Linked DNA regions of Homo sapiens: region 1 is linked to region 2. A link means that fine-mapping ties the variant in region 2 to the expression of a gene that starts in the linked region. Tissue or cell type: whole blood. Region 2 holds a variant in brackets; the other region holds the start of a gene. All regions are shown on one strand. Distances are between the middles of the regions. Region 1 holds the start of RPUSD4 (RNA pseudouridine synthase D4). Region 2 holds the start of TIRAP (TIR domain containing adaptor protein).

Evidence for each region.
Region 1: RPUSD4 starts here. The variant in region 2 is fine-mapped to the expression of RPUSD4 in whole blood (INTERVAL, PIP 0.91).

The regions. Positions count from the first base shown.
Region 1 is chr11:126,207,149-126,222,933 of GRCh38, reverse strand. It overlaps RPUSD4 (RNA pseudouridine synthase D4), which reads left to right and starts at 11,284. Exons shown (of 7, transcript NM_032795.3): 1 at 11,284-11,484; 2 at 11,879-12,044; 3 at 13,212-13,413. The coding sequence starts at 11,296. It overlaps FAM118B (family with sequence similarity 118 member B), which reads right to left and starts at 11,152. Exons shown (of 9, transcript NM_024556.4): 1 at 11,104-11,152. It also overlaps the pseudogene RNU4-86P. RefSeq lists an enhancer at 11,270-11,499.
Region 2 is chr11:126,278,550-126,294,334 of GRCh38, reverse strand. It overlaps TIRAP (TIR domain containing adaptor protein), which reads right to left and starts at 11,242. Exons shown (of 5, transcript NM_001318777.2): 1 at 11,182-11,242; 2 at 3,750-3,873; 3 at 3,374-3,532; 4 at 1,280-1,858; 5 at 1-667. The coding sequence starts at 3,440. The coding sequence ends at 648. It overlaps TIRAP-AS1 (TIRAP antisense RNA 1), which reads left to right. Exons shown (of 2, transcript NR_187388.1): 2 at 1-39. It also overlaps the pseudogene RPL35AP26 and the pseudogene LOC124902838. RefSeq lists enhancers at 1,023-1,527, 9,148-9,227, 10,696-11,503 and a silencer at 11,070-11,479. The variant G/A (reference allele first, on the strand shown) is at 7,251.

The DNA of each region.
Region 1 (15,785 bases), 71 kb after region 2:
GTATCTCACAGTACTTGCAATTATTGGCCTCTCCCACAAGAATAAAAGCCCTTCTAGGGCGAGTACAGTGTCTAATTTATTTATCATCCTATCCCCATCCCATAGCATAGTTCCTGTTATAAAGTGTGTATACGGTGCAGAAGAAGTTCAAACATTCGCTGATGGAATGAGTGTGTATCTACCATTAATTAAAGTCTAAGGGATCAATTGATATTTCTAATTTTCTGAGCTGCAAAAATTAGGATGAATTTGGGAAGGTTGTAGTATTTTCTCTCATCCAAACAAATACCTTCCGTGCTGATATCCACCACTCACCTGTTTAAAGCTGTTCATCCCTAAACATAAAGATTCTCACCTGCTTTGGAGGTTGTTTTTCCTTCCTAACAACAAGAAATTAGAATCACATAGTACTTTTGTTGAAAGTCTATAGATTTGTTTCATAAAACAAAGCTACATGCACTTTCCTCTCAGTCCACTTCCATTTGTAGTTCTCCTATGGCCTGGCCATGATTATATTCTGTATATGCTTGTAGAATTTTAAAATGCTAGGAACTGAATTCATCACAGGTTACTACATCTTCACGTTCAAATATCTGTTAAACATCCAGCACTGTGCTAAGAATATTAGTATTGCTGCATCCAGTTCTCCTCCACCAAACACTACATAGCATTGACAGTAAGCCAGGCACTGTTTTCCACACTTCACAAATATCTGCTCTTCTGTGAGGTAGATGCTATTATCATCTCATATCATAAATGGTATAGACAATGAAACAGAAGCACACAGATGTTAAGCAGCTTGTTAAAGGTCACACGACTATTACACATTAGACATGGAGTCAGTGTTCATGTTGTTAAGACACAAAACAATACCATCTCACAAAAACGAACAAGCCGTGGGCCACACTCTTAACAAGTCTACACCTTTGGAGAAACAGAACTATAAACAAACCTTTACAACATGTTTGTGCCAAGTTTCACATGCCTGGATGAGGTACCAAGGAGATGAGCACTTCTGCTTGAGGAAAATCAAGGAAAGCTTTATGGGAGATAAATACCCTTATGGCAAAATTCAATGAAATTGTTGGTGTTTATCCTCCTCTGCCTCCTGAAACACCCAACACTGAAGTCCATCTTGCCTTTTCCTGGTTTTCCTCCCTCCCCTCTAGTGGGAGGTCTTCCCTGTTTCCTAAATGCTGAGGATCCGCAGGGCTCTCCAGTCTATTCCCTTTACATACTCCCTTCCCTTCCCACCCCATTCACCCCTAGATATTAAAATACCAACTAAACGCTAAGGACTCCCAAAACGCTACCTTCAGTTCAGATCTCGGTGGTGCTTCAGGCCCAGGAGATAGCCATGTAAGTTTCAGTCAGGCAGCCCTTCAATATTGAAAGGTACTTTCAGACTGTACTTCAAACTTAAAAACCAAAAAACCGTTCAACAACCTGCTCCTTATCCTAAGTTATACAGATCTCTGAATAGTAGAAATAAGCTATGTGATAATATTTATAGGCCATTATTTCTTTCTTTCTGTTTTAAGCACCAACATATGTATTTACTGATTTTGGAAAAACTGTCATATACTTCAGAATAATGTATTTGGATCATTTCTAAACAAGAGAATATGAACCAAAGGGAACCCAGGGAAGAAAGTAAATCTGTAACCTTAAACTAGCATGATATTCTTTTCAGGATATTCTCTTTTTCCTAATAAAAATTAGCCAAAAATTAATATTGTTTTTCTTTGAGATGGAGTCTTACTCTGTCACCCAGGCTGGAGTGCAGTGGCTTGATCTCAGCTCACTGCAGCCTCTGCCTCCCGGGTTCAAGCTATTCTCCTGCCTCAGGCTCCCAAGTAGCTGGGATTACAGGCCCACGCCACCATGTTTGGCTAATTTTTGTATTTTTAGTAAAGACAGGGTTTCACTATGTTGGCCAGGCTGGTTTCAAACTCCTGGCCTCAAGCGATCCACATGCCTTGGCCTCTCAAAGTGGTGGGATTACAGGCATGAGCCACTGCGCCCGGCCTACTATTCTCTTTGATCTGAAGATGAACTGAGAGCTGAAAAGCACTGTTTAGATCTGAAATAAGAATCTGAAAGCTCTTAAAAAAAAAAAGGCATTATTTGTCACAGAAGCCATCAGAACAACTACAAAGACCAGGTTTCTTAGGAGAAATAGCTCTAAAAACATGGTTTTGCCAAGCAGGTAGCATCAGTCTTTTTTGTTTGAGACAGTCTTGCTCTGTTCCCCAGGACGGCAAGATCATGGTTCACTGCAGCATCAAACTCTGGGGCTCAAGGGATCCTCCTATCTCAGCCTCCTAAGCAGCTGGGACTACAGGTGCGCACCACCACACCTGGCTAATTTTTAAATTTTGTTGTAGAGATGGGCTCTTGCTATGTTGACCAGGCTGATCTTGAACTCCTGGCCTTGTCAAGCAATCCTCTTGCCCTGGCCTCCCAAAGTGTTGGGATTACAGGCATGGGCCACCAAGCCCAGCCAAGCATCAGTCTTAAAAAAAAAGTGGCCAGTGAAAACAATTGAGGGTATTAAAAAAAAAAGAGAGAGAGAGAAAACAGAAAGCAGGTTAGGGAGACTAAAAACATACTTTCATAAGGAAGTGAAGGAGGTCAGTGGAAGACCAAGGAGGACTCTCAGGGAGCAGCCAGAAAGCTGGGCAGCCTGGGCCCAAGGGAGGCAGGTGGAGACTTCATTCAGAAAAAGAGAGCACCTTTCCCCCAGATTTGAAAGTAACAGATCACTGCAGGAAATATGCAGAAAGAGCAAAATGAAGCCCCCCTTCCTCCAACGTGGAGCTAACCACTGCTGACATTCGGATTTATGTGGAGAAAAGCAGTTTTTAAGAGGAACTCTCGGAATAAGTCTGAGTATCTTGGGTTCATGTTCATATCAATTCTAAAAACTTCATTCATTAGAGTTTGCCCCTGCTTTCACACCATAAATCTCCATACATATAAGCCCCCCCTTTAAAAAAAATTCTTCCTTCAATGTCTTATTAAAATTAACTTAAAAAAAAAACTCAAGCAGCTCGAGCTGCTTTTTTTTTTTTTTTAAGTTAATTTTAATAAGTACAGTAGTGCATGTTTTCTGCAGTAGAAGAAAGAAAGAAGCAGTCTATTTCTAGTGGCTGGGGGTAGGGAGGTGCTGGGGAAGAGCAGGAACCTAGGAAGAGTCAGCAGAGGGTAGCCACGCCCCAGCCCCATGGACGAGACTCCTGAGGAATCCATAAAACTGCGAAGTACTAAGTTCTGGCAACAGATCTCAAACCTGCTCCTTAGCAAGAGAGCTAAAAAGAGAGTGTTTCTTATGTACTCTGTTAATTTGACTCTTAAGGCATATAAACAATAGGGAGACCCTGTCTCTACAAAAATAAAAAACTTAGCCAGATGTGGTGGCATATGCCTATGGTCCCAGCTACTTGGGAGGCTGAGGTGGGAGGATTGCTTGAACCCAGGAGGTCGAGGCTGCAGTGAGTCATGATCATGCCCACTCCAGTCTGGGCAACAGAGAGAGACTCTCAAAAAAAAAAAAAAAAAAAAAAAAAAAAAAAAAAAAAAAAGATAAACAAGAGCTGAAGGATAAGCTTCCAAAATAAACGAGGAAAACAAGAAATCTGTGCTTTTCCTTATGTGATATTCCTGTGCTGCATTCCATGACACTAAGAATATAAAACATGATAACTTCTGTCCTTACGTGTTTACTTCTTAATCTTTTTCAAAGTACGCTATTAAAATGGCAACAGAGGAGTTTTTCTTTTTTCAAGGTATAAAACCAAGAATGTGAGGTGCAGGAGATAAGCATTCAATTTTTCAATGAATTTTTGGAGATGGAAAGCAAGCTTTAAATGCAGATCTGAAAATACGGATTGGCATAAAGTCTATTTAACTAATGCGCAAATTCTCTTCCTCACCTCCTATTTTCATCTATTTTCTCCACCCCCAAATCCAGAGGTTTAAAGAAAAATGAACCGAAATCTGAAATGGGTCTGGAGTAAAATACATCAGCAGGAGCAATGAAGAACTGAAAATACAGATTATGTCAAAAGATGCATACTAAAAGGTTCTCCAAGCCTCCATCCTTGTCCCAGCAACCAATGCACTGTCAGCTAAAGAAATATTAGCAAACATATACATTTGTACAAACATACACACAAAATCCATATATACCAGCCACCCTATAGTAATGGCCACCACCCAACAAGACCCACGCTGGGAACTTAAAATAACAAAAAACAAAACAGAAATGAACAGTCAGAATCATGAGACATTCAAAGAAATCCCACAATAAAATAATTCATTTATTCCTTAAGTTATTAAGCATCTATTCATCGCCAGGCACTGTTTCAGAGGCTGGAATTATAGAGGTAAACAAAAAAAAACCCAAAATCCCTGCCCTCATAGAATGTTTATTTTAGTGGTGAGGGAAACAAGTAAATAAATATGTGGGATGCTAGATGGTGGGAAATGCTTCTGGAGAGAAACAAAGCAGGGAAGTGAGATGGGGGTCTGCACTTCTCAATCCAGTGCTCTCTTCACTGAGGTGACATTTAAGGAAAGACTTGTGGATTCATCCAAAGTGAGGTGTGGGAGCAAGTCGCTGGATATCTGAGGGAAGACACATCCAGACAGAGGCACAGGTGCAAAGGCCCACATCACCTGAAGGAAGTGGAGCCTGTGCAGAGAGGAAGAAAACTCAAATACTCCAGCGGGCCCTCTGAGCCCACCATATCCACATAACAAGAATGGATATTACAAAAAGGTATCAAAGAAAAATTAAAGATTGAGCAAAAAATCACAGAAATAGTACAAGAAAACATCCCGGAACTAGAGGACGTGAATTTCCAGAATCAAAACCGTCTGTGAGAAGCCAGCACAACAGCTGAGTAAAAGACCCATACCCTGGTGTTAATACACATCATAAAACTGCAGAACACCAGAGATAGAGAATATCCTCAAAGCTTCCAGAAGGGGAGAAAACAAACAAAATACGGTCACGTAAGAAGGATTTAAATCACCACATCTCTAGAGCAATTACAGATGCCTTCAACATTCTGAGAGAACCTTATTTCCAATCTAGAATTATATAACTGCCAAACTATCAAACAAGTGTGTGGGCAAAACCAGGTCATTCAAATACTTCTTAGAAATAACTGAAGTATATGCTTTTAAAAAATAAAGACATAAGCCCAGAAAGAGGAAGATACGGTTCCTGCACAGGAAAGGGCAGGTCCAGGAGGACCCCAGGCAGCAGTTCTTGAGAGCAACAGTAAAGGCAGGAGGAGGGGGCAGGGCTCCAATAAACAGGTGATACATTTGAGCTCACAGAAAATGTTACTGATAAGAATGTGACAAATACATTGGAGCATGTGGGAAAAAAATTAACAGTAGGTACATGAAAAACACAGGTGAAGGCCAACCTACACACCAGGAGGAACACACTGTAATAGATCATCCAGCTCAACAGTGAACAGTATTTGACAGAGGTGTAAGTACATAAAAGCTACCTGTTTTAGCAAAAAATTACAATAGAACTATATTAGGGGATAGAGGGCATGGAAAAATAGGAAAGTGGTGGGATGCAAGAGCTAAATACAAATCTATCACAACAAGAAATCAACAGGCCAAACATGAGGGGAAAACCAAGAAAGAATAACAAACCAACTATTTAGCAACAAGAAGATACAGCAGACTCTCAAAAAAAGTCTTTTTGTTCAACATCGTTTTTTCATAACATTGATGAGAGAATAAGTGATTCCTGGCTGAGGCTACCCGTTTGTGTGGAGTTGGCATGCTCCCCATGTCTGTGTGGGTTTTCTCCAGGTATTCTGCTTTCCTCCCACGTCTCAAAGATGTGCCTGCTAGGTTAGCTGGTGTGTCTAGATGGTCCCTGTGTTTGTGTGTGTGTGCATGCACACCCTATGGCATAGACAGCGTCCTGTCCAGGGCTGGCGCCTGCCTTGTGCCCTGAGCTGCCAGCATAGGCTCCAGCCACCTGTGAGCCTAAGCTGGAAAATAAATGAATGAATACAAATTACCAGCAAATAAAAATCTGCAAAGTCTATGGTAATCATCCAAATGCACAACAATAAATGATGTGGTACAATAGCTCTCAGTGAGCCTGCCCTATTGGTGATTGATTGCTTTGGAAATGAGTATGGTGGTAGGAAATGCTTCTGACAATTTTCACTTTGCACACATTTATTCCTTGATTTAACCCACCACCACTATGACTGCAGTAACTCACTGACTCACCAAAAAGTGGGTGAAAATCTTACTTGTTTCAGTGTTTCATATTAGAAATGTTTGGGTCTTTATTTAGAAATTGGGTATGTTTTTGTGACCAGAAAAACGCCATAGAAACCATATGGTAAAACTGGTTTTGTTATATCATGTTTCAAGAATACTGATGGTGTTGACCACTTACTGTAAAGACAGAGGAAAAGAGGAAAACAACTGAGTGGTTGCCTCTAAAGAATGGGACTTTGAGGTAGGGAGGGCAGAGAAACGGTTTTTGTTTTGTTGGGTTTTTTTTTGGTGACAGAGTCTCGCTCTGTCACCTAGGCTGGAGTGCAATGGTGCGACCTCGACTCACCGCAACCTCCATCTCTCCAGTTCCAGCGATTCTCCTACCTCAGCCTCCCAAGTAGCTGGGATTACAGGCACACACCACCATGCTCAGCTAATTTTAGTATTTTTAGTAGAGATTGGGTTTCACCATGTTGGCCAGGCTGGTCTTGAACTCCTGACCTCAGGCAATCCACCTGCCTCAGCCTCCCAAAGTGCTGGGATTACAGGTATGAGCCACTGGACCTGGCCTGAGAAACTGTTTTTTAATTCCAAATCTTTTATTACTATTTGACTTTTAAACTGTATTACACAAATTACTTTTTCTTTTTTGAGATGGGTCTGTCTCTGTCACCCAGGCTGGAGTGCAGTACTGCAATCATGGTTCACTGCAGCTGCAGCCTTGAATTCCCGGGCTCAAATGATCCTCCCACCTCAGCCTCAAGGGTTAGTTAGGACCATAGGTGCGTCACCATGCCCAGCTAATTTTGTGATTTTCTGTAGAGACGAGGTCTTGCTATGTTGCCCAGGCGATCTCAAACTCCTAGGCTCAAAAGATCCTCCCCGCTAGGCCTCCCAAAGTGCTGGGATTAAGGTGTGAGCCATGCACCCCACCCCCATTTAGGACATTTTTTTTTTTTTTTTTTTTGAGACGGAGTCTCATACTTTCACCCAGGCTGGAATGCAGTGGCGCGATCTTGGCTCACTGCAAGCTCTGCCTCCTGGGTTCACGCCACTCTCCTGCCTCAGCCTCCCGAGTAGCTGGGACTACAGGTGCCTGCCACCACGCCCAGCTAATTTTTGTATTTTTAGTAGAGACAGGGTTTCACCGTGTTAGCCAGGATGCTCTCCATCTCCTGATCTCGTGATCCGCCCACCTCGGCCTCCCAAAGTGCTAGGGTTACAGGCGTAAGCCACCGCGCCTGGCCAGAAATCTTAAAAGTATATTCCAACACCACTCAATGAAGTAACCTCCAAACATAAACATTAGCTCAGTGGCAAAAAGTTAAATTCTGGGGACAAGAGCAGAATCCAGTTTCTTAGTATCAATGCTAAATGTATTCAAGATAAATCTGAAATAAATCCCACTAATTCGGGCTGAAAGAGAAGTATTTCAGTATCAGTGGAAAATCTTCATAGACTAGAAACAGAGTTGCAAAAATCTTTCAAATGACAAAAAACTGAAGCCCAAATTATTTGTTCAAGTACGCAGCGGCTGAACTGGAACTAGTCCCACATCTCCTGGCTCCCAATGACTGTACTTTCCAGGGCACCTCCCAAGAGTTCCTGCTAATTGCCTCCTTTAATCTCTCTAAAACCATAAAACAATGTCCAAGTACTTCCTGCTCTTCAAGGAAATGGAATCGCTGGTTAATCTGCAACTAGCAAATCACAGTTTGAGGAGGCGTAACTTAACTTTATACCACTAATTAACCTTAAATTTGTGATAAACGCAAGTTCCTTTATTAGTTAGTCCTTGTTTGTTTATATTTGCGAAATACTAATGCAGCCTTTTTGTTCCTGAATAGACTAGGAAATATCTTTAAAAAGAAACTATCAAGTTCTTCTTTATATGGTTACTTTAGGGGCACATATTATGATATATCAAAATCAATGTAAATAAGTCATGTTTGAACAGAGCCGTAGTCTGCAAGAATGAAGAAATCACTAATAGAATTTCCTTCCTTGTTCTAAGAAAACATTTAGACAAGAGGAGTTCCCAACAAATGGACTGTGACATTGGCGCAGAAGTGGAAAAGTGAACTGCCTAAAAAAGGACCAGCTGAATGAGGAACAGGGAGGAGGCAATATAGAGGTAAAAAAAAAAAAACAAAAAAAAAACAAAAAAAAAAAACAGAAACAAAAGAGTTTTTTGCAGTGGCAGTATTGCAGCCAATGAGGTTTATCTGAGGGGTGATTATTGCTCTTTGAAAATTGGAAAAAAAAAAAAAAAAAAGACATGACATTTGCATAAATTCTTTTTTTTTTTTTTGAGATGGAGTCTTGCTGTGTTGCCCAGACTGGAGTGCAGTGATGCGATCTCGGCTCACTGCAAGCTCCGCCTCCCGGGTTCACGCCATTCTCCCGCCTCAGCCTCCCGAGTAGCTGGGATTACAGGCGCCTGCCACCGCGCCTGGCTAATTTTTTTTTTGTATTTTTAGTAGAGACGGGGGTTTCACCATGTTAGCCAGGATGGTCTCGATCTCCTGACCTCGTGATCTGCCCGCCTCAGCCTCCCAAAGTGCTGGGATTACAGGCGTGGGCCACCGCGCCCGGCCACATAAATTCTTTATACTGAGAACAACTCTACTTTAAATCACCAAGTGCCTAGACTCACCGGAGAAACATTAAGGATGTCATAACTTATGTACCCATACTGGCTAAAGCTGCACTGTCATACCAAACAAAAACTTTGAATTCTTTAAATTTCTCTACAAAGTTTCAACAAGACAAACCTAAAAGTTCCTTCTCCAGAAAAAAGGGACCAATATTTTTATTCTTAAGTCACTAAGTGTGTGCTTTGAGTTAACCTGAAACCCTAGAGCATAAGCTCTGTGTCACTAGCAATGACATTTGAGTTGGTTCTTCATTTTGTTTCCCGCCACAGAAGGCCAACTCTGCAAGAACAGGTGTAGTTTCTTGAATGCCATAAGGTTAGGGTAGAAACAGCCTCTCCCATCCCCGACACAAAACCATAAAAGTCCTGTACCCAAAACAAGTTTTTAATTAATGTAATGATATGAATTTAAGTCCCGATGTCAAAACTTCAGGGTCCTTGGAAAATTGAGCTTCAAGTATCTAAGTAATATGTGATGTTCAAGTGAAATTAGAACCTAGGTCTGGAGCATGGAAGGTAATAATTCTTTTAGGGTGGAATTTCTCAACTTTTATAGACCTCTGTCTTACTGGTAAATTTGCAGGGGGTGGGTGGGGAACAGGAGAAACAGATGTTTCCCAATCTCCCTTGGAAATCTTTGCATTTGTATCTGGATCTGCATTTACACCTGCCTTATAAGAGAAACGTACACAAGCCTTGCTTCTTTCCCACTTTACAAATACATCTTCCTCTACCTTCATTCTTCAGGCCAAACATTGACAGAAATAAGACAATTCAAAATGTTCAGACACACCTAGCATACATTTATGATGCACTTCAGCCATCTAACAGATATCGAGTTTACTATGTGCCAGGTGAGTGGATTAAAAAAAAAAATTCTTCCAGGGACTCACAGATCAACAGCAGCTGCCAAGAGTACGCCTTGACCTGCATAACTCAATTAATTCAAACTCAAAGGAGTTACAGTGTAGGGGGAAAAGACCAGACCTCATCACTGACCACCTAGATTGTAACTAGTTTTCCTACTATCAAACCCTTTCCTTCCCCACTATCAAACCCTTTCCTTCCCCATCTGTCCTGCATTCAACTGCCAGATTCATTTCCAGAATTCCACTTTCAAGGAGTCTCTCTGCCCTACTCGAAAAGCTTCAAAGACTCCTCACTACGTATCACCTCTAGTTCAAACTCTTCAACTTGAGTCTTCTATGAGTAGCTCCACCTGATCAACTTTGTTTCTTGTTGGTACGGCTCCCTTCTGCCAAACCCTTTAGGAGGTGTAGAACCCAAATCTAATTCAACTACCTATTCTCTAATAACTCCTCAGGCAGCCTTCATTCCAAGCAGTCTTAAAAAATTGTTCCTTCTATCGTCACAGATCCATTAGTTTTCAGGACATTCTTTCTGAACTCAGCATAAGCTTTCCTCTTAACAAATGGCAGGTATATCCCAAGTTATTTTTAACACTACCATCCCAAACAGATGTTTATCTTCCCAGCCACCCCTGAGTGAAATCAGAGGGAGTCGCCTGCAGTTCGGGCAAGGGAATCCCAACATCGCATCTCGTGAGAGGAGGTATGGTGTGGTTGCAAACTATGGAGAGGAAAAATAAAGGAAACAGGAAAAGTGAAGGTCTGTGCTCCGTTCTTTCAGCTTTTTCTTTAGGAGGAGTAGGGAAGGTAGGGAGGAGACCCCCAAGAAATGAATTCTTGAGGAAGGGCAGAAAAAACACTCACAGTGCTTCCTAAGTAGGAAATAGGTGCTGGGGGCCCTGGATAAGGGAAGGGGCCGTCATCCTTAGGAGAAGGGTACAGGTTACAACGCGAAACAAAGAGGCTGGGAGTTGGAAGATGAAGGGTGGAGAGACTACAGAGATCCGGGCATCCGATCAAGAGGGTCCCCGACGCGTCCCGCAGGGGACTGGCGGATCACCGGAGATTCAGTGGCTAAGAGGGACGGCGTCGGTGCCTAGGAGGGCTCTGGGGCGAGCGTTTATGGGACATCGCTCCTAAGGGGGCGCGGGGGCGGGGAGGAGTTTTTGAGTGGGATCGTGTACCAAAAGGAGAAACGTTTCTCAGACCAGTGCTCTTCTTGAACGGAAATCCCGGGGACGCAGAAAACGTTAAACCGTTGAGGCACCGGCATTTCCCAGCCCCAGCCCGGCTTCCCTACACACTCACCGAGTCTCCTCCAAACGCCACTGCTCCAGCTGCAGCTACCGGCCGGCGCAGCCGCACTGAGCGCGCACCGTCCCCACGTGACTCGCCCAGGCCCCACCCCGCACCACGTGACCTGCAGGGCCCACCCACTCCCGCCTCATTGTAGTCGCCCTTCTCCACGTGGTCTTGGCTCGCCCCGCCCTTCCTTGTAAGATGGCGGCGCCCAGGTGGAGCGCGTCGGGCCCCTGGATCCGGGGAAACGGCCAAGGTTGCGGGAGTCTCTTCACTCTCGTCTCAAAGCCATTTTGTGCCGCTGCCGCTGCCTCTACGGCCATAAATGCCCAGAGATTAGCGGAGAAGCTCCGAGCCCAGAAACGGGAACAAGACACAAAGAAGGAGCCGGTGAGTCCAAAGGGACCAGAACTCCCTAGAGGCAGTGCGCTCATTGGTTTCCCAGACGGGGAGTAGGTAGGAGGGTCCTCTGAGTGAAAGCGTGTGAGTCAATAGCCCGGACGCAAGGTGGGAGAATGGGGAGAAGGCGGAGGGGAGGGGTCAGTAAGGGTACGGTGTTTTCCCGTGAGCTGGATCTTTGGCTACTGTCAGGCTCAGTCCTAACCACTGCGTCGGTACGCAGGTTAGACAGATGGGTATCTCTGCTCTCAAATTAGTCGAAGGCGGCGCGGGTCTGATGCAAAGATAGTCATTCCCTACTCAGATTCTCACCCAGACCTTTATGGAAGGTCTTCTCCACGGCTTCCGCACCAGGCATTCCCCACGGCTCCTTCTTTCTCCCTAGGTGTCCACAAACGCTGTTCAGCGGAGAGTGCAAGAAATAGTGCGGTTCACACGGCAGCTGCAGCGAGTCCACCCCAACGTGCTTGCTAAGGCACTGACCCGAGGAATTCTCCACCAGGACAAGAACCTTGTGGTCATCAATAAGCCCTACGGTCTCCCTGTGCATGGTAAGGACCACGCGGGAAAGGTGGAGGAACCTGCAGCTGCTTTCTGCTACAACCGAGGAAAACTGAGACGTTACTTGTGGTGCACTCTAAAGCCTTGCATTCAAATTAATTAAACTTTTGTAAACTACCGTCCAATATAAGGAACCACCGAGAACACAGAAATAAATAAATAAGACAGTCCTCCCTTTCTAAACATCTGACAGTAAGCAATTCGTAGAATACGCTGTGTGCAGACTACAGGGATCGCTGTAGAGATATACAAAGGCTGTGTGGTTCTAGACTAAAGGTTATCTTCCATCAGAACTGGGAATGAGAAAATGATACATAAGAAAAAAGGGGGTGTGTGTGTGTGTGTGTGTGTGTGTGTGTATGTATGTTGGAGTATATGTAACATACAACCCCAGAGTGACTGGAATTTAGTGGACCTTCAAATGTCTTTCAACAGATGTTGCATGTAGTTGTCAGGGACAGCTGAAGTGAATCAGGAAAGATTGATTTAAAAAATGCATTTGTGAAAGAGGGAAAAGGCCCATTTTAGCTAGAAGAAGGTAATGCTTTTTGGGGAGATACGGAGATAGTTGTTCACAAAGACAAGGAATTAAATCACATCACCAAGTGTTTGTATAATTTTTTTCTCTCTTTATTTTCGCAACAGTTTTTTGCCTTTCCATTCCCCAATGAAGTTGTTTTCCAGATATTTACATTTTATAACGAGAAAGCAAAGTTGGAAAGAGAAGTAATGTGTCCAAGGTCAAAAAAATGGCTAGTAAGAAGAGTAGAGTAGAACCCCAGGAATGTCTAACCCCGAAGTCTATCCTCCTAATCACTCTTATTTAATGCTTCTCGAAGGCCTCATGGTTTTTCAAAGTATGTCTGAGAGGAAGCCACATGCTCTAGAATGGTGTTTCTCAAACTTTAATATGCTTCTGAATCACTTGGGCAGCTTGTAAAATGCAGATTCTGACTGAGTAGTCTAGGTTGAGAGCCTGAGATTCACTTCTAATAAGCTCCCTAGACATGCCATTGTTGCTAGTCTCTGGACCACACTTCAGTAGTAAGGCTCTAGAAAATATTGACAGTTTATCCATTAAGGGCTTTTCTCCCAAGGAGAGTTCTTTGGCGAGATCTTTTCCTGGCCGCTCAAACCTTTGGCTTTTTCCTTCTTAGGTGGCCCTGGGGTCCAGCTCTGCATCACTGATGTACTACCTATCCTGGCAAAGATGCTTCATGGCCACAAGGCAGAGCCCTTGCATCTGTGCCACCGGCTGGACAAGGAAACCACAGGTGTAATGGTGTTGGCTTGGGACAAGGACATGGCACATCAAGTCCAAGAGTTGTTTAGAACCCGTCAGGTGGTGAAGAAGTACTGGTATGAGGCCTGCTGATGGCAGTAGAGGTGGTATAAGTGGAGGCATTTCTTTCACCTATTTATTCATTAAAAACAGAAACTCCCATTAATAGAAGGCACTGCACTATGACCTGCGAGATTGTAAAAAATATGTGAAACAGCTTTGGTGCTTAGAATATTAAGTCTGATAGAACAGTGGTTCTTAATTCTGGTATACATCAAAATTATCAAAAATTAATTATACAAGCATGGGGTGGACATGGTGGCTCACGCCTGTAATCACAGCACTTTGAGAGGCAGAGGTGGGAGGATCACTTTAGGCCAAGAGTCGGAGAACAGCCTGGGCAACATAGTGACACCTTTTCTCTATAAAAAGTAAGAAGTTAGTCCGGTATAGTGGCACATACCTGTAGTCCCAGCTACTTGGGAGGCCAGGGTGGGAGGATCACTTGAGCCCAGGAGTTTGAGGTTACAGTGAGCTATGATCACACCACTGCACTCCAGCCTGGGTGACAGAGTGAGATCCTGTCTCTAAAGAAAAAAAAATTAATTAATTATACAAGTAATATATGATTTTATTCCCATGCTAAAAATAGTCAAACAACAAAGATCATGTGAAAAACTCCTGGAGAATCCACCCATTCTGCCATTCTAGTGTTTTCTCTTGAGGTAACAACCCATGTAATCAGTTTGGTTTTTTTTCCTCTGGTTCTTACTCAACGCATTTACATATATGTCTAGTGTATACAGTATACGCGTGTGCGGCGTACGCAGTATACGCGTGTCCGGCATACGCAGAATATGCGTGTCTGGTGTACGCAGTATATGCGTGTCTGGTGTATGCAGTATATGCATGTGTACATATGTATGTACACATATATATCTATATATATATCACATTGTACAATTTACATTATACTTTTTTCCTCTGCTCACCTCTATGTCTTGGGGATCATCCTGTGTTAGCACATAGAGGTTTACCTCAGTGTTTTTCATAGAAAAAAGATGCGTGAGCAAAAAAGAAACCCTCTATTCCCCATCTGTGCAGTTGCCTTCCCCAGCGTCAATCGCTGTGACTGGTGTCTTCTGTAAACTTCCAGAGTTATCGAGCATATATAAGCATATTACTGTATGCTAGTGTATTTCACACAGAGTTTTGTACCCTACAGTTTTCACTTGGATCATATATCTTAGAGCATTTTGTGTCATACGTTTAGAGCTGTCTCCTTTTTAATTGCTCTGTGAAATACCGCTGTATGGATGGATATTTAGGTAATTTCTCATTTTTTAGAGCCTATTGCAAAGAATATGTGAATGTATTTTTAAGATAAATTTCTAAAAATTGAATCGCTGGGCTGAATGGTTTGTATATTTAAATTTTAATAGTACTCACATTGCTCTCCACAAAGGTTTTTTATCAGTTTACATTCCCACCAGCAGTGGTGAGTACCCACCTCCCCTTATCAGCCAAAGCATTTTTAAAGGGTTTGCCACTGTGATAAGTTAAAAAAAAAAAAGATATTTTCTATTTCCTTGTATAACAGTGATATTGGCTATCAATTTACATGTTTTTTACATGTTTATTGGCTATTTGAGTTTCCCTTTTGGGAACAGACTGATTATTTCTTTTGCCTATTTTTCTACAGGGTTGTTTATTATTATTATTTTTTTTTATTTAAGACCGTGCCTGGCCTTTTTTTTTTGAGATGGAGTCTTGCTGTGTCACCCAGGCTGGAGGGCAGTGGCACAATCTTGGCTCACTGCAACCTCCTCCCTGGTTCAAGTGGTTCTCATGTTTCAGCTAGCTGGAATTACAGGCACATGCCACCATGCCCAGCTAATTTTTGTATTTTTAGTAGAGATGGGGTTTCAGCCTGTTGGCCAGGCTGGTCTTGAACCCCTGACCTAAAGTGATCTGTCCATCAAAGTGCTAGGATTACAGCGCTTACAGCTCACAGGCGTGAGCCACTGTGTCTGGCCCAGGTTGTTTATTCTTTTCTATTTGATTTGTAAGTATTCATTTTATATTTTGAATGTTAGTCCTTTTTAGATTACAGATTTTGCAGATACTTTGTGAATCTGAGGAGCCCTTTAAAAATATGTATGATTGAGACTTACCCACAGAAGTTCTCATTCGTAAGTGTGGTGGTTGTGGGGATTGGCATCTGTATTTTAAAATTTGATATACAATCAAATTTAAGAACTATGATAAGATTATGGAGAATGGAGGAATTTAGGACAGTAGCTAAGACCTCAAAAAGATGTGTGTTCAACTCTCAACTGTGTCATTTAACAGCTGTGGGGCCTTGGGCAGGTTATTAAATGTCCATAAGCTTTGTTTTCTTCATCTGAAAAATGGAAACAGTAGGATTTATGAGATAGTTAAATAAGAT
Region 2 (15,785 bases):
TAAAAAATACAGTGCAGTGCTGACTGCATCTTCCCTACAGCTCTTTGAAGTGAATCGATGTCTCTGGGAAGAGGAACAGAGTAGTGTGAGTGTGAAGGACTGGATTCTTGTTGCTTTCTCCTGATGCCCATTCCAGGGTTTCCCCAGGCAACTAGGAAGACCATCCATGGTGAGGCCTGCAATCTAGGCTTCTTGCTGATCAGTCAGGTGAGTCACTTCTTTAGGAGGGATACCAGTGTACGCCAGTGCCCAGTTCCAGGGGAAGACAGAAGTGGGTGCCAGGCTTCCTGTCCAGTTAGGCAGGAGATGAGTCCTGCTGGCCATCATTGATCAGTACCACTTCCTACCACCTCCAATTTCTGGCTTCCTCATGGCCTTCTTGGGGAGTCCCCAGCTTCCTCATGGCTTTCCTAGGGGGAATCCCCAGCTTCACGGCCTTCCTGGGGGAGTCCCCAAGCTCTCCATGGTCTTCTTAGGGAGCCCACAGTAATGGAAGCCTGATGGGTGCTCTGATCCCAGGGTCACGAGCAAAGCGCTGTGACTCACTCCCTATACCTCTTGTCACATTTGTGGGAATCCGAGGCCCTGCATGGGTTTTCTGTTTCTAGCTTCACTCCAATTTCCGGGGTCCCATGATATAACAAGTGTCAACTGAGTGTCTGCAGATCTGAAAGAGACCAATCACAGCGTTGTCACACCTCCCAAACCCAGCATCTGTTTTCCCCAACAGGTCCTGCCTCTTCTATCTTTTTATCTATTACACTTCCAAACCTACTGCAATAGCATGGCCCTCCCCAGATACACTTATATGCACTTCTTTCCTATTATTTTGCATCATTTTGCCTTACTAAACCAATGTCCCTCCTGGCACCTTCCCAGCTCTTGATGGACATCTCCAGCCTGATCTCAGAGAAACCTAATGCTATTACTGTTACTACTACTAGCTATTAACTTGAGGACCTGATTTGTGCTAGGCGCTGCCTGTTATGAATACATGTGCTAGGCCATGTTCTGAGCCCTTCGTGTATATACTGTTCTCATTTCATAGCAATGGAAACCTGTTGGTCAGTGAGGAAACCAAGGCACAGAGCGGGTGAGTAACTTGGCCAAGTTACTTTTTATGGGTTAATAAGTGCAGGAGCCAGGATACAAACCCCGACAGCCTTTTCCAGAAGCTGCGCTTTGAACTACTAGGCTACAGGGCTGTCTCCTAAAAGTCAAAGTAGATCAGATACTGTAGCTGAATCCCGTTCCCCTTCTCCCTCCTGTAGTAGCTTACAACGCATGACAGCTTCTTTGACTTGACGAAAGCCACCATCAGGGCCCCTGCCATCGACGTAGTACATGAATCGGAGCTCAGGTGGGTAGGCAGCTCTGCTGAGGCCCGACAGCAGGGGGATGGTGCAGCCCTCGGCCCCTGGAGCCTCGGTCAGGGCCTGCAGCATCTGGTACTTGCACCAGGGGTCCTGAAGGAAGCCCGGCGTGATGAGCAGCACCCGGCAGTGACTACTGCTCAGTGCCTGGCACAGCTCGGACACTATAGCGCCGCCTGGGGTTGCATCCCGGAGTTGCAGGAAGCAGCGCAGGCTGGCAGTGCTGCCTTCCAAGTAGGAGACCAGGTCCTGGGCGGCCACCAGGTCTTCCTCACTGTGGCACACGCAGACGTCATAGTCTTTGCTCCAGCGACTACTGCCACTGTCACTCGCATGTGTGGGTGGCAGGCTGGGAGACGTGACTGAGCTGAGGCTTGGGGGTAGTGGGCTGTCCTGTGAGGTAGGCTGTGAAGCATCGCTGGAGGTGCTTTCTGGGGAGTTGGGCCTCTTCTTGGGCTTCTTCAGCAGGGTCTGCCTGAACCAGTCTGTGGGGGAGAAACACTGCTCAGGCCTGTGTGTTACCAGGTGCCCTCTCACTGCCCACACAGGGAGGAGCCCCACCTCACAGGGAGGACAGACAGACTGCAGCCCACCTCCCTGCACTGGGAAACATCTTATTCTCAGAGACCTGTTGCTCCACTATTTTTTTTTTTTTTTTTTGAGGCAGAGTCTCACTCTCACCCAGGCTGGAGTACAGTGGTGCGATCTTGGCTCACTGCAACTTCTGCCTCCCAGGTTCAAGCGATTCTCCTGCCTCAGCCTCCTGAGTAGCTGGGATTACAGGCATGCACCACCACACCTGGCTAATTTTTGTATTTTTAGTAGAGACGGGGTTTCACCATGTTGGTCAGGCTGGTCTTGAACTTCTGACCTCATGATCTGCCCGCCTCAGCCTCCCAAAGTGCTGGGATTACAGGCGTGAGCCACTGTGCCCAGCACTCTGCTATTTTTGTTTATCTTTTGGGACTTGCCTAAAAGTGCCCTCTAAAGGTAAAGGTTTTGGACGTGTCAGAACTCTGGAATCCTTATGTGAGAGTGTTCCACCAGCCTGGTTAAGAGAAATGGCCTTGCACTACTCCAGGCCCTTTGATATCTGGTACCCCCAGCCCAGCCCACCTTAAGCAGAACTTCCCACTAGAGCTGACTAGTCAACCACCGGGAGTCTGCAGGCAGAGCTACGTTATGCTAGCAAGGATCCATCAGTCCCAAAGCCCACTTTCAGCACTGAGGGGAGGTGGACTTAGATTAGGAAGGGCTACGTATACAGGAAGGAAGGGGTACGGAGGACTGGCATCTGTTTGGCCCCAAGAAATCCTAGATTGTCGCTAAATGGGGAAGAGGCTACTGCTCAGAGTTGCTGAGGAGCAGAGAGCTTCGTGATTCAGAACCCACACTCTGGAGTCAGGGACACGGCTTTGACTGTGGACTTGTGGACCTGTCTTAGTTGCTGAAAGTTAACTGAGATAATGCAGTGTCAGGTATGTCAGGGAGCCGGGCCTCTTCTTGGGCTTCTTCAGCAGGGTCTGCCTGAACCAGTCTGTGGGGGAGAAACACTGCTCAGGTCTGTGTTTGGAGTATGGGACTCCATAAGGAGATGAAAACAGCTTCCCCAGCCTTTGATAAGGACAGATAGTTGTGGTGGGGATTGATTCATTTTCTCTCTCTGCTTGGCTTCTCCTCTAAATGGTTCTGGAACAAAGATTTGGACGACAAGAGACAGTGTTAAGCACTCAGCACAGTGGTTTCCAGGCTAGGAAAGCTAGCTGAGCAGGCCTGGAAAACCTTTGAGCCAAAAGGATAAAGATCTGGCTGAGCTGACGCAGGCCTCCCCTCCTCACTCTCCACAAAGCATCCAGGCCCTGAATTCAGGTCAGGAGTTCCCCACGTCAGCCTTCCTGCGTCTCTCTGAGTTTGGACCAGGCAGGCCTCCCACCGCGCCCTATGGAGGCTGAGCACTACACTCAGGAACACAGCAGAGTCGCGAGTCCGGTTCCACTCACCAGCCATCTTGCCTAGAGGCTTCTTAGGCCGAGAGCCAGGAGCTGGGAGGGAGGTCGATGATGCCATAGCGTGGGGGTCAAAACTAGCCCCGTGAGACCAGGCATTGGTGAAGGGGGAGGAGGGAGGAGACCCAGTCTTGACCTCATGGAGCAGCCATCCTACAGAGGGTAGAGAGAGAGAATCACAAAGGCTGCACTTACCCTGCTCTCATTCCCCATGGATGAGCTCTGCGAAGTTCTGTTTCTCTCCTAATGCCTGACAGAGGCTTCTTCTCTAAATGGGTCTTTCATTCCTCATGAGATTAGGGCCAGACACGACTGTGATTGGAGCTGGATTCTAGATAAAGCCAAAGCTGTGTAGTGTGGTCAGACTTACAGGGTATGAGCTCAGCATGACCAGCTGAGGAACTGTTCTCTGCTCCACCTGGCCAGGAGGATATTCGGGATCTGGGGAAGGGCAGCTGGCAGGCAGCTCTTTAGAAGGACTTCCTATGTAAGGCCTGAAATGGCAGAAGAAGGACAGTTGCTATTTGGACAAATAATTATGTATCCAGATAGACAGAAGCTGAACAGTAGAGAGAGAGCACATGCAGGAAATCTTGGGAGACTTTTCCTCCAAGTCTGCCTCCCCCTGAATAACTCCATCCATAGACCCATCGCCCCTGCAGCCGTCAGCTCAGGAAGGTCATGTCAAAAAGTGGTACAGACTGCAGACTGCAGGTAGAGTGCCTGATTCTCATCTCTGGTTAACCGTGACCTTTGGCCACCTTGCTAAACTCGTTTCTCCATCCGTGAAATGGAAGTACTAGAGCCTCCTTCTCAGCATTATTGTGAAGATTAAATGAAATCATTTATGTAAAGTCCTAATGGTGCCTGGCATGTAATAAATGCTTAGAAAATGTGGGCTACTATGTATATAAAATAATCTAGATATTGGAGGGGTATATTATGTTCATGGTTTATTAAACTTGTAATGTTAACGTTTCCCAAACTGATCATTAATTCAGTGCTGTTCCAAAGTCTAGAAGATTTTTGTTTTTTAGGTTTTTTGGTGGGGAGGTTGTCAGACTGCTTCTAAATTTATATGGAAATACAAAGGCCCAAGAATCCCTTAGAAAGGCAACCTGCCATGTTCTTTTCCCACCGTAGTGACAGAGGATGTCCCTGATGGCGGACACTCTTTCAGCCTTAAGTTTCTGTGGAGCAGAGCCTGTGGGGGCTGTAGTATTCTAGTGACACTTCTCCTGTGAAAGGCTGGCAGAGCAACTGGCACAGGGCTGCTTTCTCTTTGGTGGATCTGTGAGATCAAAACAAACCTGAGAACTCATGGAAGCAAGTATTATTAGACACACTAAAATAAAAGGTTTCAAAATTTAAAGAATGTGGCCAGGCACAATGGCTCACGCCTGTAATCCTAGCATTTTGGGAGGCCAAGGCGGCGGATCACCTGAAGTCAGGAGTTCAAGCCTAGCCTGGCCAACATGGTAAAACCCCTGTCTCTACTGAAAATACAAAAATTAGCTGGGCATGGTGGCAGGCGCCTATAATCCCAGCTACTTGGGAGGCTGAGGCAGAAGAATCTCTTGAACCTGGAGGCGGAGGTTGCAGTGAGCTGAGATTATACCACTGCACTCCAGCCTGGGCAACAAGAGCGAAACTCCATCTCAATAAAAAAAATTAAAGAATGTCATTCTATGCTGCACATTAATGCTTTGTTCACTGATGCGTAGAAGACAAGGGATGCTGAGGATTTGTGATCATATATCAAAGTTCAAAAAAGAAGTAGAACTTAAACCATAGCAGCAAAGGAGGCAGAGCAAAGGGTTGGAATGGGTACAGGAACCAGAGAAGACATCTGAAAAAGCAACACAGCTAAATGTGAAGCCACCAAAACGGCACTGGACGTTGACTATGAGTATGTATATGAGTTTCTTTTCTTTCCTAATATGCTTGGGATTTCAGACAGCCTAAGTGGTAGGCTGCAGCTAGGGCCGTTCAGGATGCCTTTTTGCCCCCAGTAGTAAACATGATGTCACTTGGTTTTTGCATTTTTTAAATATTTTTTCAATTCTGTTTTAATTTTAATATTAATTATTTGGCCTTGGTGCACTTGTAAACTAGAGCATCATTTGATTTGTAAATATTCTAAAGGTTAAAAATTAACATAATATGTTAATCTACTTAATATATGTAGATTTTAAAGTTTCAGTTTCTCATTTTATGAAATGACTTGCCCTTTTGGCAACGCATGCTAATTGGGGGAAATTGCTTTTCCATTGCTTGGTTAAGAAGAAATCCAGTTGTCCAGCAGTATATGCCACCAGAAGTGCGGTGGTATAAGCCCTCATGAGAAACATGGAAACGTTTTAAAGAGAAAAATAACAGCACCTTTGACAGGATAATTGAGCAAGATGGCAGGTAAATTCCAGTAACCATACACACTGCCTACTTCCTGGAATCCAAGACGCCATGCACCTTCCCTGTTCCTTTTCAGTTCTTTTGTAGCTGGAGCTGTGGAACTGTCACATATTCAAACACGTGTTAATCTTTCCAAGACCTGGTAACTGTCATCATATCTTGAGATGTGGTTGACAAGTAGGTAAGGTAATGAACCCAAATCTCCAACTGGAAGCTCTACTCACTAGCTCTGCCTATTCTCTGATTTGCTGTGTGGTCTAATACGCAGTCGCTTTCTTTGTGCTTTGAAAAAATTCATAAAGTAGAATCATACCAAAAATACCCACTTTGTAAGAACTATGACTTGATAGAAAATTAGTAAAGGGAACGGGCTCAGTGGCTCATGCCTGTAATCCCAGCACTTTGGGAGGCCGAGGTGGGCAGATCATGTGAGCTCAGGAGTTCCAGACCAGCCTGTCAAAACCCCTTCTCTACTAAAAATACAAAATTTAGCCGGGTGTGCTGGTGCTCCCCTGTAATCCCAGCACTTTGGGAGGCCGAGGTGGGCAGATCATGTGAGCTCAGGAGTTCAAGACCAGCCTGGCCGACAGGTCGAAACCCTGTCTCTACTAAAAATACAAAAATTAGCCAGGCATGGTGTCGCACACCTGTAATCCTAGCTACTTGGGTGGCTGAGGCTGGATAATCCCTTGAACCTGGGAGGCAGAGGTTGCAGTGAGCCGAGATTGCACCACTGTGCTCCAGCCTGGGTGACAGAGCGAGACTCGATCTCAAAAAAATAAAGAAAAGAAAATTAGTAAAGAATTTCTTCAGAAAAGAAGTAGCACAATACCTTTAGTGCTTTCTAGAATGCTTTTCCAATATTATGTGCAGAAACTGATGTAAAGGAAACATTATGGAGTTTTGCTGTATAAAATCCAAAGTGGGCTGGGCACAGTGGCTCATGCCTGTAATCCCAGCACTTTGGGAGGCCGAGGTGGGCGGATCATGAGGTCAGGAATTTGAGATCAGCCTGGCCAACATGGTGAAACCCTGTCTCTACTAAAAATACAAAAATTAGCTAAGCGTGGTGGTGCGTGCCTGTAATCCCAGCTGCTCAGGAGGCTGAGGCAGGAGAATCACTTGAACCCGGGAGGTGGAGGTTGCAGTGAGCCGAGATCATGCCACTGCACTCCAGCCTGGGCAACAGAGCAAGACTCAAGTCTCAAAAATAAAAAAAAAAAAATCCAAAGTGTATTTAGTATCCAATATCAAACTGGTCTCCAATTTCTATTATATAGGGAATGTACTGGAGCCTGTGAAGGCATATAATTAGAATATGTATCTCTTAGAGTTCATATTCGATTTCTGTTAAGCAGGAATCACTATCTGGGGTAGACAGAATAGTGGCCCACAAAGAGGCCCACATCCTAATCCCCGGAACTGAGAATATGTTACCTTCCGTGGCAAAAGGGGATTC[G/A]GCAGCTGTGATTAAGAACCTTGTGATGGGGAGGGATTCCTGGATTACCCAGGTGAGTTTAATGTAACCACAAAGATCCTTTCAAGAGGGAGGCAGGAAGGTCTGAGGCAGACGAAAGAGCTGTGCCAAGGGAAGCAGGCGGCAGTGGGATGCAGGTGGCCTCTAGAAGCTGGAAAAGGCAAGTCCATGGGTTCTTTCCTGGAGCCTTCAGAAGGAGCACGGCCTTGCTGACCCATCTTAGAACGGCAGGATAATCAATGTGTGTTGTTTGAGGCCACTAAGTTTGTGGCAATTTGTTACAGCAGCAATAGGAAACTACTACACTGTGTCTGATTAGATCAGGCCAATGAATGGAGAAAGTATTGGATTTCAGTTGAGTGCTAAAACCTGGTCTGTTTAAAGGTTCAAATTGTTTGAAACAGTTTTTACATCTTTAAATAAATAAATTACCATCTATACTTCACCTGACTTTGACTTTACATTTAAAAGAATTTTGGTTTCAAAGGCTGTTTTGTTCTCAAACACTTGCTAAAACGTTTGGGTAGGATTAATTATGGTTTGCAGGACAATGTCACTTAAAGTCCTGAATATAATTCATTTATAGCTTGATAGACACAACACAGTGTTCTCAAAGAGGTTTGTAGACTATGGTGCAGACCTAGGGTGGCCCCCTGTGTTCACACCTGGGACTGTGAGAAGGACCCATGACTTTCTTTTTTTTTCAGACAGACTCATTCCATTACCCAGGCTGGAGTGCAGTGGCACAATCTCAGCTCACTGCAACCTCTGCCTCCTGGGTTCAAGTGATTCTTGTGCCTCAGCCTCCTGAGTAGCTGGGACTACAGGTGCTCGCCACCACATCCAGCTAATTTTTGTATTTTTAGTAGACACGAGGTTTTACCATGTTGACCAGGCTGGTCTGGAACTCATGACCTCAAGTGATTGGCCCACCTCAACCTCCCAAAGTGCTGGGATTACATACAGGCATGAGCCACCACACCCGACCTTTTTTTTTTTTTTTTTTTTTTTTCCAGAGAGGGTCTTGCTCTGTCACCCAGGCTGGAGTGCAGTGTTGTGATTACAGCTCACTGCAGCCTCAACCTCCAAGGCTCAAGCAGTCTTCCATCTCAACCTCTAGAGTAGCTGGAATTAAAGACGTGAGCCACCACACCTACCTAATTTATTTTTTTCATTTTTTAATTTTTCTTGGTACAGACAGGATCTTGCTTTGTTGGCCAAGCTGGTCTCCTAACTCGTGGCCTCAAGTGATCCGCCCACCTCAGCCTCCCAAAGTGCTGGGATTACAGGCATGAGCCACCATGCCCAGCTTTAATTTTACTTTTATCTGAGTCTTCTTGCTAGGGAAGATTTTTTAAAAACCAGACTCAAATAATACAACTATAAGGGGAAAAAATGATAAAATAAAAAACATTAGAATGAAGAACTTCTGTTCATCAAAAGACATAAATAGGAGAGTGAAAAGGCAATCTCCCGAGGGTTAAAATGTTTAAAAATATATATCCAGGGCTGGGCACAGTGGCTCACACCTGTAATCCCGGCACTTTGGGAGGCCGAGGCGGGCGGATAACTAGGTCAGGAGTTCAAGATCAGCCTGGCCAACATGGTGAAACCCCATCTCTACTAAAAATACAAAAATTAGCTGGGTGTGGTGGCAGGTGCCTGTAATCCCAGCTACTCGGGAGGCTAAAGCAGGAGAATCGCTTGAACCTGGGAGACGGAGGTTGCAGTGAGCTGAGACTGCGCCATTGCACTGCAGCCTGGGTGACAGAGACTCCGTCTCAAAAATCAAATAAAATATATATTATATATATATATATATACACACACACACATATATCCAATAAATGTCTTATATCACAAATATTTCAAGGACTCAATGGAACTAGTAAGACGACAGAAAAATGAGCAGAAGAATTGAGCAGGCACTTCACAAAAGGAATATTCAAATGAGCAATAGACATCAAAACAGTTCATTAGTCATCAGAGAAATGCAAACTAAAACCTCAATGCATCACTGCTGGGCACTCAGCCAAATGGCTACAGAGAAAAAGACTATCAAGTAGTGGTAAGAGTGTGCAGGGATGGGAACTCGAACACTGCCGGTGGAGAAGTGTTTGGCCATAGACTAAGATGAGCATACACACATCAGCAATTTCAGTCCTACGAATATACTCAAACAGCAGTGCTTACATATTTTTTTTTTTTTTTTTGAGACGGAGTCTCCCTCTGTCGCCCGGGCTGGAGTGCAGTGGCATAATCTCGGCTCCCTGCAACCTCTGCCTCCCACGTTCAAGCGATTCTCCTGCCTCAACCTCCCAAATAGCTGGGACTACCGACACCCGCCATCACGCCTGGCTGATTTTTGTATTTTTAGTAGAGACGGGGTTTCACCATATTGACTAGGCTGGTCTCGAACTCCTGACCTCGTAATCTGCCTGCCTCAGCCTCCCAAAGTGCTGGGATTACAGGTGTGAGCCACTGTTCCCCGCCTGCTTACAGATGTTTACCAAAAGACATTCACAAGAATGTCTGTAGCAGCAAGATACAAAATAACCCCACAGTGGAAACGACTGTCCATCAACCCGTGTCCAGTAGAATGGATAAATAAATTGTGGTCTAGCCATACAATGGAATATTATATACCAACAAGAATAAACTGCTAACTAAACATGGGTGAATATCACAAAACATACTGAATGTCAGACGTCACACACGTAAGAGTACATGAAGGGCTGGGCGCAGTGGTTCACGCCTGTAATCCCAGCACTCTGGAAGGCTGAGGCAGGCGGATCACCTGAGTTCAGGAGTTCGAGACCACCCTGGCCAATATGGCGAAACCCCGTCGCTACTGAAAATGCAACAATTAGCCGGGCGTGGTGGCAGGCGCCTGTAATCCCAGCTACTCGGGAGGAGGCAGGAGAATCGCTTGAACCCACAAGGCGGAGGCTGCAGTGAACCGAGATTGCGCCACTGCACTCCAGCCCAGAGGACAAAGGCGAAACTCCATCTCAAAAAAAAAAAAAAAAAAAAGAAGTACATGATATATGATTCCATGGATGGAAAATCCAAAACAGGCAAACCTATTTTATGGCGTTAGAAGCCAGGGATGTAGTCATGTTTTATTGATTGCTCTGAATCAGGAAATGTGCGTGTTGTGGAAAATGGTTGAGCTGTACACTTAGGATTTGTGTGCCTACGTATCAACTCTTTTAAATCTAAAAACTAACTAGATGTGGTTCCCTCTGAGTCATTCCTGATCCTGGTGTCCCCTAGGTTTGGTGTTTCAACGGGAGTTCTCCACACTTCCCCCTCTCTGTTGCACTTCTAGGGTATGCTGTGATTCTAGCGTACCTGTCTGTCCCCTGGGGACCAGAAGACTGGATCTGTCTGGTCCACCGCGGTCACCCTAGTCGTTGGCACAGTGGCTGCCCAGCCCGTGTGTAGCTGCCCATGACTGTGGTGTAATGCCTCGATAGGTCCCTGACCCTAACTAATGTTATGCACTTGCTGAATCACTGCCACAATGACAACCCGAAGAGCAGAGGAAGAGGCTGTGACCGGAGCAGAGAAGAACGTGAGGAGAAACGATATCCACAACGCACTGAGCGCCAGGCTCTTCCAGCGAGGCAAGCGAAAGGGGAGCCGCCCCGCGCGAGCTTCTTTGCGACAGAAAAGGTGACATTCTCCTCGGAGGGCCCTTTCATGCCGCTTGCGTGTTGCGGGTGCCAGAAAGGTGAAGAAGGGAAGCGGATGTGCCGCCAGCAGGGCAAGGCCGGACCAGAGGCGGCGCGCACCCCTGCGGCTCTCGGTGGGGCCGGGACTCTGGGGCCCAGGCCGGCCGCGCTCCGTCGCCCACCCCACGGAGCCCCGCCGCGCCTCCCGGTCCCCCGCGACCCCGCCCCGGGCTCACCTGCGCGCGGGCCCAGTTGCGATGAGGGCTGCGCGGACTGCGCGGGCTCCGCGGGGAAGAGCAGCGCGCAGGCCCCGCTCTCCGGAAGCGCCGCCCGCCGCACTGCCCCTCCCACGCCGCCAGGCCCAGTCCAGACCCGGGAGACTCTCGGGCACAATCCGGCTGCGGGAGACGCGGGACGGGGCAGCCCCTGTGTCCACTGCGGCCCGAGCCCCTGCCAGCCTGGCTTCTGCATGACTCCGGGCTCCCGTCCTCTCCGCTTGCGTTGGGGCGGTCCGCAGCAACTCGGAGAGGAGCCCGTGGCCAGGGTCCCCCGGCGCCCACCGTGACAACCTGAAACCTGGGTTTTGTTCTAGGCGGGGGAGAAGGAAAAAAAAACACCCTATTCCGCCCATTTAATCTTCCTAACACCCTGCAAGGGGGGTGTTCATACCTTTTTCCTTTTATACAAATGAGAAACATGAAGCTTGGAGAGATGGAACTTTTCCAAAGGTCACACACAGCGAGGGGTGTACGGGGCTGCAGTGTGGGAGGGGCAGACCCGGGCGGCAGCTGGGAAGCCAGGCCGCAGCGGCCGCCAGTTCCCGTCCCAGACACTGGTTGATGCCGAGGAGGGTGGAAACCCCGTCTTCTGCCAAAGTGCTTTCTTTGCTTCTCTAAGCGGTGATCCCACATGGGCGTTATGAACAGCGCTGCAGTATGCTGCAGAGCCGCTGCAAACAGCGTGGTGTAGGCAAGATGCTGGAAGTCCTGGGTGAAAGAGATGCCTTTGCCTCCCACTTCTGAGAGCTCTTCAGATGTTCGTGAGCGCTGTGAAGCACCTTGGGGAGAAGGGAACGGAGCATTCCCCACACTTGTTTCACTCTACAAGAAATGTGAATGTCTTCCTGAGCGTCTTGCTCCAGGCCATGCCAGTTTGGGAAACCCTATCCTAAAACTATGTGCACGAAATGCTGGAGAGTGGAGGTAGTTTAATTAGGCCATGTAAGATTCATGATCTCCCCCTCCAATTTGATTTCCTCCTTTTCTCACCAGCCCGCCAAAGCGGATGAGCTGCCCATCCTGGGAGGGCTCTGGAGTCAACTGCCTGGGTTCACAACCAGCGCTCATCGCTTACTAGTTGTGTGGCCTTGGTGAAGTCACGCAACTTTTCTAGGCTTGCTTCCTTCATCACATTATGGTATCTGGTTGCTGGTGTTCTTGCAAGGATTAGTCTACATAAAGTAGATCAGGCACTTGGCACTGCACCCAAATGCCCAGTTTGCTTTGACTCTACCTGACTCTACCAAGTACACCTCCGCCCAGGGCCCTCCTTTTCCCCAGCTCCGCTCTGCAAAACGCCCTTCTTCTAGCAAGGCCTATTTTTGGGGTTTTTTTGTTTCCTTTTTCTTTTTTTTCCCATCACACGGGTAACAACCCTTAACAAGGTTTAAGGGAGGCACACCTCACACATGTGCGTGAACACCCAGTCATCTTGCTTATGAGCTACAAAGGGATCAAGGCCCATTTTTGCAGCTTATTCAGGAAAGCTTTGCTTAACCCAGCCCTTCCCACCTCCATCCCTCAAAGGCCATAGTGCTTTTCATTGTAAAGAGCCTGTGCTCTGCTGCTTATCTCCCACTTTAGAGTAAAAATTCCCCGAGGCCAGGGATGGTTCTTCAGGCTCCAGCCAGAGCAGAAGGACACTCGAGGAACACTCAGATAAACAGGCCTTGACGGCGCCAAGTATGGGCCAAGTGTTGGGGCAGCTGAGTGTCAGGCAAGGATGAAGAAGGCTTGGTCCCAGCTCTGCACAGCTCAGGGGGGAAGACAGATGCACGGAGGCGATGGTAAGGGCTTGCCCACAGCTTGAAGTACAGCCCTGTGGGAGGACAGGAGAGTTGCTCAGTGCTTTTTTTTTTTTTTTGAGATGGAGTTTCACTCTTGTTGCCCAGGCTGGAGTGCAATGGCGCAATCTCAGCTCACTGCAACCTCCGCCTCCAGGGTTCAAGCAATTCTCCTGCCTCTGCCTCCTGAGTAGCTGGAATTACAGGCACACGCCACCATGCCCGGCTAATTTTGTATTTTTACTAGAGACAGGAGTTCTCCGTGTTGGTCAGGCTGGTCTCGAACTCCTGACCTGAGGTGATCTGCCCACCTCCGCCTCCCAAAGTGCTGGGATTACAGGCCTCAGTGCTTCTTAATAAACATAGTACTCAGTGTGTGGAAGGGAGCAGCTTCTGGGTGAGAAACACTTGAAGGCCTTTTCCCTTTTGCCCTGAGATTGGAATGTCCGTGCTGAAGGGAGCAACTGGCTGGCACCTAGGGGAACTTCACAGGGTCAACCCGGATGTCAGCTTGTCCCTCCTGCGTATCCCTGGCAAGTTCCTTCCTGTCTTTCAGCACCGCCTTCTTCCTCTTCTGGCTTCCGCCTTAGGCCTGGCCCCCTCACCCCAACCTCAGGGGCTTCTGCTGTTACCTCACTGGTAGCACATCTCCTCCCCTGCCATTAGTAAAGCCCACCTCCATCATTTCTTCCCTCCCTTTCATCCTTCTCCACAAAGGCCACTTTTTCTGTTGTCGTTTTTTGTTTTTGAGATAGGGTCTTACTCCTTCACCCAGGCTGGAGTGCAGTGGTGCCTCACAGCTCACTGCAGCCTCAACCTCCAAGGCTCAAGTGATCCTCCTGCCTCAGCCTCCCACGTATTAATAGCTGGGACTACAGGTGCATGCCACCACGCTTGGCTAATTTTTGTATTTTTTGTAGAGACAGGATTTTGCCATGTTGCCCAAGCTGGTCTCGAACTCGTAGGCTCAAGCGATCTTCCCACCTCGGCCTCCCAGAGTCCTGGGATTACAACTGTGAGCCACCGCGCCCGATCCCAAAGGCCACTTTCAAGGCGGAGTGGGCAGTTTACCAGCTGTTTCTATTCCCATTCACTTCTCCTGTGCAAGTGTCCAGACCTTAAATTCCACTGAAACTGCTCTTCTCGAGTGAGGCCACCACTGACCTACTTGGGACCGAATCCAGCAGGCACCGTGATCACTTCCTCCTTAGCTTCACGACACCACACTCTCCTGGCTTTTCTCCTGTCTCTGTGGGCACCTCTTCAGTGTCCCCTTCTCTGGTCTGTCCCTTAAATGTTGGTGGGGTCCCTCCAGCTTCCCTCCTTGGCCCCCTACTCTACCCTCTGGGGTGATGCCATCCTGTTCCATGATGTCCACATCACTATCTACAGCCCAGATCATCCCCCAAGGACCATGCCAATCAGCCCAACCCCCTATTTGAGGGATGTCCTACAGGTACCCTCATTCACCACATCCCAGACTGCACCATTCACTCTGTCCCTCACTCCGCTCCTCCCTGGTGCTCCTCATCTCTGGGAGGGGTAGAACCTCCATCCAGAAACCTGGCCATGCGACTTAACCCACTTCTTGTTGCTGGCGTCACCCTGGGATCCATCTGATTCTTGCCATGATGGTTCAGGCACTCCCTGTCCCTGCCACACAGACTGCAACCACAGCCTCCATCTGGCCTCCTTGCTGCCTGCCTTGACATCCTCATCTGCTCTCCACAGGGTCACCCAGGTGATTCTTCTAAAAGGAAAATCCGATCGTGTTGCTCCTGTTTAAAACCCCTCAGTGGCTCTAGTTCCTCTTCTCGCACTCCACGATCCAGGCAGAAACAGTCACACTGAATCCTGCTGTGGTCTGAATGTTGGTGTCCTCCCTAAAGTCCTATGTTGGAACCTGATACCCAATGTGATAGTGTTAAGAGGCGGGGCTTTTGGGGACGTGATTAAGTCATGTGGACTCTACCCTCATGAAAGGGACGAGTGTTCTTAGAAGAGGTTGAAAGAAGTTGCCTTACCCCTTCTGCCATGTGAGGATGCAGTGAGAAAGCACCATCTTCGAAGCAGAAAGCAGGCCTTTACTAGACATTGAATCTGCTGGTGCCTTGATCTTGGACTTCCCAGTGTCTAGAACTGTGAGCAATACATCTCTATTATTTATAAATTACCCAGTCTAGGATATGTTGTGATAGCTGCCCAAGTGGACTAGGACAAATCCCTGAATCGTATTAATTCTTGTCTCTGGACCTTTACATATGGTTTGCCCTCAGCCTGGATCCTCCCTTAGCCACCTTGCATTCACTTCACTAAATGCCCATCCTTTAGGTTCAGCTCAGAGGTCAACTTCCCTCGAGGAGCTTCATGGAGAAACCCCTTTGCCACCCTCTTAGTCCCACCCTGGGTGAGGTGTCTGTGTTGTGTGCTTATGCCAGCACTGTGGGGGTCACACTGTATCTGATCTAGGGGTGAAGGGCTAGGAGGTGCAGGGCTATGAAAGTTCCAGCAAAGACATGACTATGTTTTGCTTGCTGGTGTATCTCAACATGTGACCCTGACCCTGGCCAACAGCTGGGCTGAATAAATTTTGGTAGAATAGATGGACAAACCCATCCCTCTTCTTTACAACCAAACTCCCTGCAGGAACTCAGGAATGGGAGGCACTTGCTTACAAGCAAGTGCCTACCACCTAGGATCTAAGAAGGACTCTGTCTGCCATCTTGGAGCCTGTGGAGGCTTGCTGGGAACAGGAAGGCTGTGGTCCAAGGCCATTTT